2 linked regions of the Homo sapiens genome follow. The protein of the gene in region 1 purifies or fractionates together with the protein of each later gene. This does not show direct contact. Each region holds a gene or a part of one and is shown in the gene's direction. Other genes may lie near its edges.

Region 1 (4,106 bases):
CAAGATTAGTCTGGCCAACGTGGTGAAACCCCGTCTCTACCAAAAATACAAAAATTAGTTGGGCGTGGTGGTGGACATCTGTAATCCCAGCTACTAGGGAGGCTGAGGCACGAGAATCACTTGAGCCCTGAGGCACAGGTTGCAATGAGCCGAGATAGTGCCTCTGCACTCCAGCCTGGGTGACAGAGTGAGACTCCATCTCAAAAAAAAAAAATAAATAAATAATAAAAATCAAAACAGGAGTGGTTAACATAGAAGGGTGCCTAGGAGTTAGAAAAAAATATTGGTCATTGACAAAAATTTTGAGACTTGAGTTGTATCCAATTGGAGAAGGCTCTTCCACAAACACTTTATAAATTATATAATTTTCCTTGCTAAGCAGCATTTTGTTTGATTATAATTTCTTTGTTTGGAGTTTGGTAATATGCTCAAGTTCACAGGGTGAGTAAGTGACAGGGCTGGGACTAGACTCCTGTTGTGAATTCTTCTAGAGCCCACACTCTTCATTCTGTTCCTCTCTGCCTGGAGCAGACTTTGTGTTCTTTAATTCACTTTTCTTCTCAATACTTCCAAATATATCTCAGGGGTTAAAAAGAAGGATTCTGTGCCCAAAGAATTGGATTGGAATACATAGCCAAAGCAATAAAGAATATCAAAATAAATGAAAGCTACAAATAAAGAGGAGAAAGAGATATTATTCAGTGACAATATGATCATCTACATATGCACAGTCAGATAACCTCAAAATCAGGGACCACACAATCATCTTGAACAGCTCCTTCCCCTTAAGAAGTAAATCAATTAAAACAGAAGTCACATAAGAGGCTAGTGCTGGCTATTGAAAAGAGTAAATCAGCATCATTTTTCTCTGACAACCCACCAGCTACCTTGGACTCCCTGCTTTGTGTTATAATTTCTTTACCTCACATTAGCCCTGGGGCACAGACTTGCAAGGTTTGCAGTAGGAACGCTGCCCAAGAGTTTGCAGGGATGTGGCATTTCCCAGGAAGCCTTTATTCAGAGAGGCAAGAGAAAATAAGGAGGACACCCATAAATAAATACTGGAAAGACAACCACACCAAAAGATAACGGGGCAATCTACCCAAACCTCTTCTCAGCCTAGAATGCCCCAGGCAGTGCAGTCAGACTGAGCATCCTCTCTTTTACCCTTCAGAGTTCTCAGTGAAGTGAGAGTTTTGACCTAAGGTGACCTCAGTTAACTAGAGGGAGGATCCAGGGTCTGGCAGATATCAGGGAGGACCTTGAATGAAGAACAGGAGGAGCCAGAACAGTGATGTCCCATAGAAACCCGACTCCGCTGTCTGCCCTCACAGGACCCAAACATCCCTGGCCTAATGTGGCTCATCAAAACTTCAGCCTAGATCTCGGAGGACCTTGATCTGAGCAGGATTCATGGCATGGAATGTGGAGTCCCAGGACTGGCCAGCAGCGAAGTGAGGTTCTTGAGTGAGTAAAAAAGGGAAAACTAAACCCACAAATAAGGGGACTTCTCGGAGCCCAATCCATATTTTTAACCCTGGAAAGCCCTAGGCAGAGCTATAAAACTGGCTTGCCTCTCATTTCAGCCTGGCGGATCTCAGGGAGGGGAAGGCTTTGTCTAACAGGGCAGCCTCAGTTCTTCAGAGGTCTCTTGGCCCTAACTAGAGTCAAGATGAAGACCAAGCCGGTGCGGCATCTCAGGCCTGTAATCCCAGCACACTGGGAGGCCGAGGCGAGTGAACTGTTTGGGCCCCCCCAGGAGTTCGAAACCAGCCGGGACAACATGGCGAAAACCTGTCTCTACAAAAAAAAAAAAAATGGCGGGGCAGCAGTGGAGCACCCCTGTAGTCCCAGCTACCCAGGAGGCTGAGGTGGGAGGATCGCTTAAGCCCTAGGGGTCAAGGCTGCAGTGAGCCAAGGTCACGCCACTGCGCTCCAGCCTGGGTGACAGAGAGAAACACTGTCTCAAATTAGCCGGGCGTGGTGCGGCGCACGTGTAGTCCCAGCTATTCGGGAGGCGGAGGCAGGAGAATCGCTTGAACCCGGGAGGCAGAGGTTGCAGTGAGCCAAGATAGCGCCACTGCACTCCCGCCTGGGTGACAGAGCGAGACTCCATCTCAAAATAAATAAATAAATAAATATAAACTTTTTTTTTTTAATTTTAAGGCAGGGCTCTGGCTCACGCTTGTAATCCCAACATTTTGGGAGGACGAAGCCAGCCTCATCGCTTAAGCACAGGAGTTCGAGGACTGGGAGGTGGAGGTTGTGGTAAGTCAAGATTGCGCGGCTACACTCCAGCCTGGAAGACAGAGAGAGCCCCTGTCACAAAAAAAAAAAAAAAAAAAAAAAAAAGAAAGAAAGAAAGAAAGAAATATGAGGCCCACCGGTGCTAACCAGGGAACCTCTCTCCAAAAGAAGGGCCCACCAAAAGCCCTAACCCTGTTTCAGGTCTTTGAAGCCCCAGGACATGGTCCGATAACATGCCTAGACTTCCCCTCTAGGGACTATGGGAGGGGAGGATTTTGGAGGTTGGCGGACTTCGCTCAGTAGAGGTGTTACTCTGCTCCGCTTAGTATCAAGGTGAGAACCCTGAATAAGGACCTAGGGACCACTGACTCCAGAACAGTGGGGTCCCAGCGTGTCACCCGCTGCTGTCAGCCCTCGGAGACCCCGAGCGGGGTGTGGCTCAGCCTCACTTCCGCTTTGAAAGTGAGGCAGTTGGCCTGACGGGTGCAATAGCTTCAGTCAGGTTCGTGGCCTAGCGTGAGTCTTAGAACTGATCCGGAGTAAAGGTAAGAACCCTCAGCGGGGACTGAAGGGACAATCCATGTTTTTAACCCTGGAAAGCCCTAGGCGGAACTATAAAACTGGCTTGCCTCTCATTTCAGCCTGGCGGGTCTCAGGGAGGGGAAGGCTTTCTCTAACAGGGCAGCCTCAGTTCTTCAGAGGTCTCTTGGCCCTAACTAGAGTCAAGATGAAGACCAAGCCGGTACGGCGTCTCAGGCCTGTAATCCCAGCACACTGGGAGGCCGAGGCGAGTGAACTGTTTGGGCCCCCCCAGGAGTTCGAAACCAGCCGGGACAACATGGCGAAAACCTGTCTCTACAAAAAAAAAAAAAAATGGCGGGGCAGCAGTGGAGCACCCCTGTAGTCCCAGCTACCCAGGAGGCTGAGGTGGGAGGATCGCTTAAGCCCTAGGGGTCAAGGCTGCAGTGAGCCAAGGTCACGCCACTGCGCTCCAGCCTGGGTGACAGAGAGAAACACTGTCTCAAATTAGCCGGGCGTGGTGCGGCGCACGTGTAGTCCCAGCTATTCGGGAGGCGGAGGCAGGAGAATCGCTTGAACCCGGGAGGCAGAGGTTGCAGTGAGCCAAGATTGCGCCACTGCACTCCCGCCTGGGTGACAGAGAGAGACTCCATCTCAAAATAAGTAAATAAATAAATAAATATAAACTTTTTTTTATTTTTTATTTTAAGGCAGGGCTGTGGCTCACGCTTGTAATCCCAACATTTTGGGCGGAGGAAGCCAGCCTCATCGCTTAAGCACAGGAGTTCGCGGACTGGGAGGTGAGCTGCCCCTGTAGTCCCAGCTACCCAGGAGGCTGAGGTGGGAGGATCGCTTAAGCCCTAGGAGTCAAGGCTGCAGTGAGCCAAGGTCACGCCACTGCGCTCCAGCCTGGGCGACAGAGAGAGACACTGTCTCAAATTAGCCGGGCGTGGTGGGGCACAGGTGTAGTCCCAGCTATTCGGGAGGTGGAGGCAGGAGAATCCCTTGAACCCGGGAGGCAGAGGTTGCAGTGAGCCAAGATCGCGCCACTGCACTCCCGCCTGGGTGACAGAGCGAGACTCCATCTCAAAATAAATAAATAAATAAATAAATAGATATAAACTTTTTTTTTTTTTAATTTTAAGGCAGGGCTCTGGCTCACGCTTGTAATCCCAACATTTTGGGAGGACGAAGCCAGCCTCATCGCTTAAGCACAGGAGTTCGAGGACTGGGAGGTGGAGGTTGTGGTAAGTCAAGATTGCGCGGCTACACTCCAGCCTGGAAGACAGAGAGAGCCCCTGTCACAAAAAAAAAAAAAAAAAAGAAAGAAAGAAAGAAAG
Region 2 (3,500 bases), on another chromosome or scaffold:
ATCTCTTTTCCATTGACTCCTCTGATGCTTTTCCTGTTGTAATCATCTTAGCAAAATCTCTTACCTGTATGCTACCCCTCCCAGTGGAACATCTAGCACCACTCCCCTCATCCCAGCTCCAGCTGCCATTGACCTCCTCCCTGCAATCCTTTTCTAGGCTGTTACCCTTCCTAAGGTAATCCCCACCATCTCTTTCCCTCGTACCCCTCCCTAGTCATGGCCAACACACACCTTGCCTGCAGGTGTTCTTCAAGGCCGGGCTGCTGGGGCTGCTGGAGGAAATGAGGGACGAGAGGCTGAGCCGCATCATCACGCGTATCCAGGCCCAGTCCCGAGGTGTGCTCGCCAGAATGGAGTACAAAAAGCTGCTGGAACGTAGGTGAGAGATCTCAAGAGGAGGTTTCCCGCTTCTCTGAGGCCCAGGCTGGTTCAGGGGCAGTGTCAGGAAAAAAAGCTCAGCAGATCTTCAAACACAGAGACCTGCAGGAGGGGCTCATATGAACACACTGCAGTCACAGGGTCAGAGGCCTCAGGAAGGGTGGGAGGGATGAAGGAAATGGGATATTCCCAAGGTTTCAGGACCTCAGGTAGGAAGGAGGCAGGAGGCTCAGCACTCCTTTCAATGGGCCCCTGCAGAGACTCCCTGCTGGTAATCCAGTGGAACATTCGGGCCTTCATGGGGGTCAAGAATTGGCCCTGGATGAAGCTCTACTTCAAGATCAAGCCGCTGCTGAAGAGTGCAGAAAGAGAGAAGGAGATGGCCTCCATGAAGGAGGAGTTCACACGCCTCAAAGAGGCGCTAGAGAAGTCCGAGGCTCGCCGCAAGGAGCTGGAGGAGAAGATGGTGTCCCTGCTGCAGGAGAAGAATGACCTGCAGCTCCAAGTGCAGGCGGTGAGGCTCCTGGGCTACTGTTGGCTCTTCCACCCTGCTCTGCCTTCACTTCCCACAACCCTGCACCTCCCTGCACAGGGGCTCACTGTCTTGTTCCTTCAGTCAGAGGACTCTGGGATCAACACTTCTAAAGACCTCCAAAGAGGTCCCTCAGGAGGAGGAAAGGGCAGAGGGAAAAGAGCTGACTTTTAAAAGCACAGGCTTTCTACTTGGGTTCAACCTAGATACACAGCTTAATTATTTTGTGACCTTGGGCAGACCATGCATCATCTTTGAGCCTCAATTTCCTCTAGACAGGGAATAAAGCTGTCCATTTCATTAAGCCATCATACATAAGTGCTTGGCATCAGCAAATGCAATTCCCACCCTTCGATGGAGGAGACCAGAGGAAGAGGTCCAGATGAAGATTTCTGGTTCCTTTCCTCTCTGCTCCCCTCCCCAGTGTTCCCAAGTTATACTATCCTGAAACTCTTCCCCTCCCCATACTTCTGAAGCTCTTGCCAAGTGGGGATATCCTAGAGTTACCCTCCTATTTGAGTGATGTGCCTCTCCTTCCCTCTACCTGCAAGAATGAGGACCTTACCCCCTGAACAGCCTCCCCTCTGTTCCTCACCTTCAGGAACAAGACAACCTGGCAGATGCTGAGGAGCGCTGTGATCAGCTGATCAAAAACAAGATTCAGCTGGAGGCCAAGGTGAAGGAGATGAACGAGAGGCTGGAGGATGAGGAGGAGATGAATGCTGAGCTCACTGCCAAGAAGCGCAAGCTGGAAGATGAGTGCTCAGAGCTCAAAAGGGACATCGATGATCTGGAGCTGACACTGGCCAAAGTGGAGAAGGAGAAACACGCAACAGAGAACAAGGTAAGGGCAGCTCCCTTTGGCTCCAGCCCGGGTCTCATCAGGACTCTCAGACCATACTGACCTTGACCCAGGCTAGCCACTCGGCATCCAGAGAGCAGCATGGACCTTGACATGGAGCTCCCCACAGATGGCACCAAGCTGGTGACCTTTGACCCTAAAGGAGATGGGATTCTTGGTCGGCAGGTGAAAAACCTGACAGAGGAGATGGCTGGGCTGGATGAGATCATTGCCAAGCTGACCAAGGAGAAGAAAGCTCTGCAAGAGGCCCACCAACAGGCTCTGGATGACCTTCAGGCCGAGGAGGACAAGGTCAACACCCTGACTAAGGCCAAAGTCAAGCTGGAGCAGCAAGTGGATGATGTGAGTAGATTGAGAGTTGTGGGGCCTAGATATGCCATGTCTATCTGTGCCCAGAGCTCTGTGTGTGTGTGTGTGTGTGTGTGTGTGTGTGTGTGTGTGTGTGTGTGTGTTTGTGTTTATGTTTAGAGGGGGGTAGGGTTAGAGGATGTTAACTTTTCTGATATCTTTCTAGAAAGGAGCTGGGGAATGAAAAGTCAGAGGTGGTGATCAATTCTGAATTATGTATCTAATCTCACTGGTATGATCAATAATAGAGATGAGTTTTCTTATTTAATTTAAGTGCAATCCCATATATCTCTGCCTTTGACACAAGATTTAGAGGGTCATCTCATAAGAACATGATAAATTTCTTTGGAAATTTTGTGAGGCTCCCCAAGTAGAATTTTTGAAATTCCAATATTTAAGGCAGAATCTGATCATTGTTCCCTCTGATGCACATATGTCTGTTGACTCACTTATCACTCTGTATTTTAATTATTTAAGCTTCTATCTCAGCCATAAGACTACAAGCTTCCTTTAGATAGGAACTTAGATCTATTCAATTTGGGGACTGCAGTGCTTAGCACAGAGCCTGATGCCCAGTAGGTGTTTATAGGATGCTGAAAGAATGAATACGGCGGCCAGCCGCGGTGGCTCACACCTGTAATCCCAGCACTTTGGGAGGCCAAGGCGGGTGGATCACGAGGTCAAGAGATCGAGACCATCCTGGCCAATATGGTGAAACCCCATCTCTACTAAAAATACAAAAATTAGCTGGATGTGGTGGCGTGCGCCTGTAGTCCCAGCTACTCAGGAGGCTGAGGCAGAATAATCCCTTGAACCAGGGAGGCGGAGGTTGCAGTGAGCCGAGATCGCGCCACTGCACTCCAGCCTGGCGACAGAGTGAGACTCCATAAAAAAAAAAAAAAAAAAAAGGAGGAAGGAAGGAAGGAAGGAGAGAAAGAAAGGAGAGAAAGAAAGAAAGAAAGAAAGGGAAAGAAAGAAAGAATACGGCTTTGGGGTTTCATCCCACAGTCATTTATTCCTTTATCTATAAAATATTGATTCAGCATCCCCTATATCTAGGCAATCTCACAGTCCCCTAATAACATTTGGCCCACTCTGGGGAAGGTTTCCCAAGTCCTGAACACAAAGATTTACCAAGTCCTGAGGTAACTGAACAACAAAATCACCAAGTCAGGATGCTTTGCCTCACTGGGCCTGGCTCCTTCTCTCTACCAGCTGGAAGGATCCCTGGAGCAAGAGAAGAAGGTGCGCATGGACCTGGAGCGAGCGAAGCGGAAGCTGGAGGGCGACCTGAAGCTGACCCAGGAGAGCATCATGGACCTGGAGAATGACAAGCAGCAGCTGGATGAGCGGCTGAAAAAGTACTGTGTCCCCTCCCTG

The links. The genes of interacting proteins can lie anywhere in the genome.
Region 2: the proteins of MAGEB3 (region 1) and MYH7 purify together in Homo sapiens (co-immunoprecipitation; one large-scale study listed by IntAct). This does not show direct contact.

What each region holds. Positions count from the first base shown.
Region 1 is NC_000023.11:30,229,351-30,233,456, forward strand, and holds the start of MAGEB3 (melanoma-associated antigen B3), read left to right. Parts: upstream 1-1,306; 5' UTR 1,307-1,467; intron 1,468-2,166; 5' UTR 2,167-2,268; intron 2,269-2,716; exon of another isoform or gene 2,717-2,792; intron 2,793-3,476; 5' UTR 3,477-3,566; intron 3,567-3,911; 5' UTR 3,912-4,013; intron 4,014-4,106.
Region 2 is NC_000014.9:23,422,161-23,425,660, reverse strand, and holds part of MYH7 (myosin-7), read left to right. Parts: intron 1-242; coding exon 243-379; intron 380-636; coding exon 637-892; intron 893-1,511; coding exon 1,512-1,754; intron 1,755-1,937; coding exon 1,938-2,114; intron 2,115-3,335; coding exon 3,336-3,481; intron 3,482-3,500. UniProt on the Homo sapiens protein: Myosins are actin-based motor molecules with ATPase activity essential for muscle contraction. Forms regular bipolar thick filaments that, together with actin thin filaments, constitute the fundamental contractile unit of skeletal and cardiac muscle.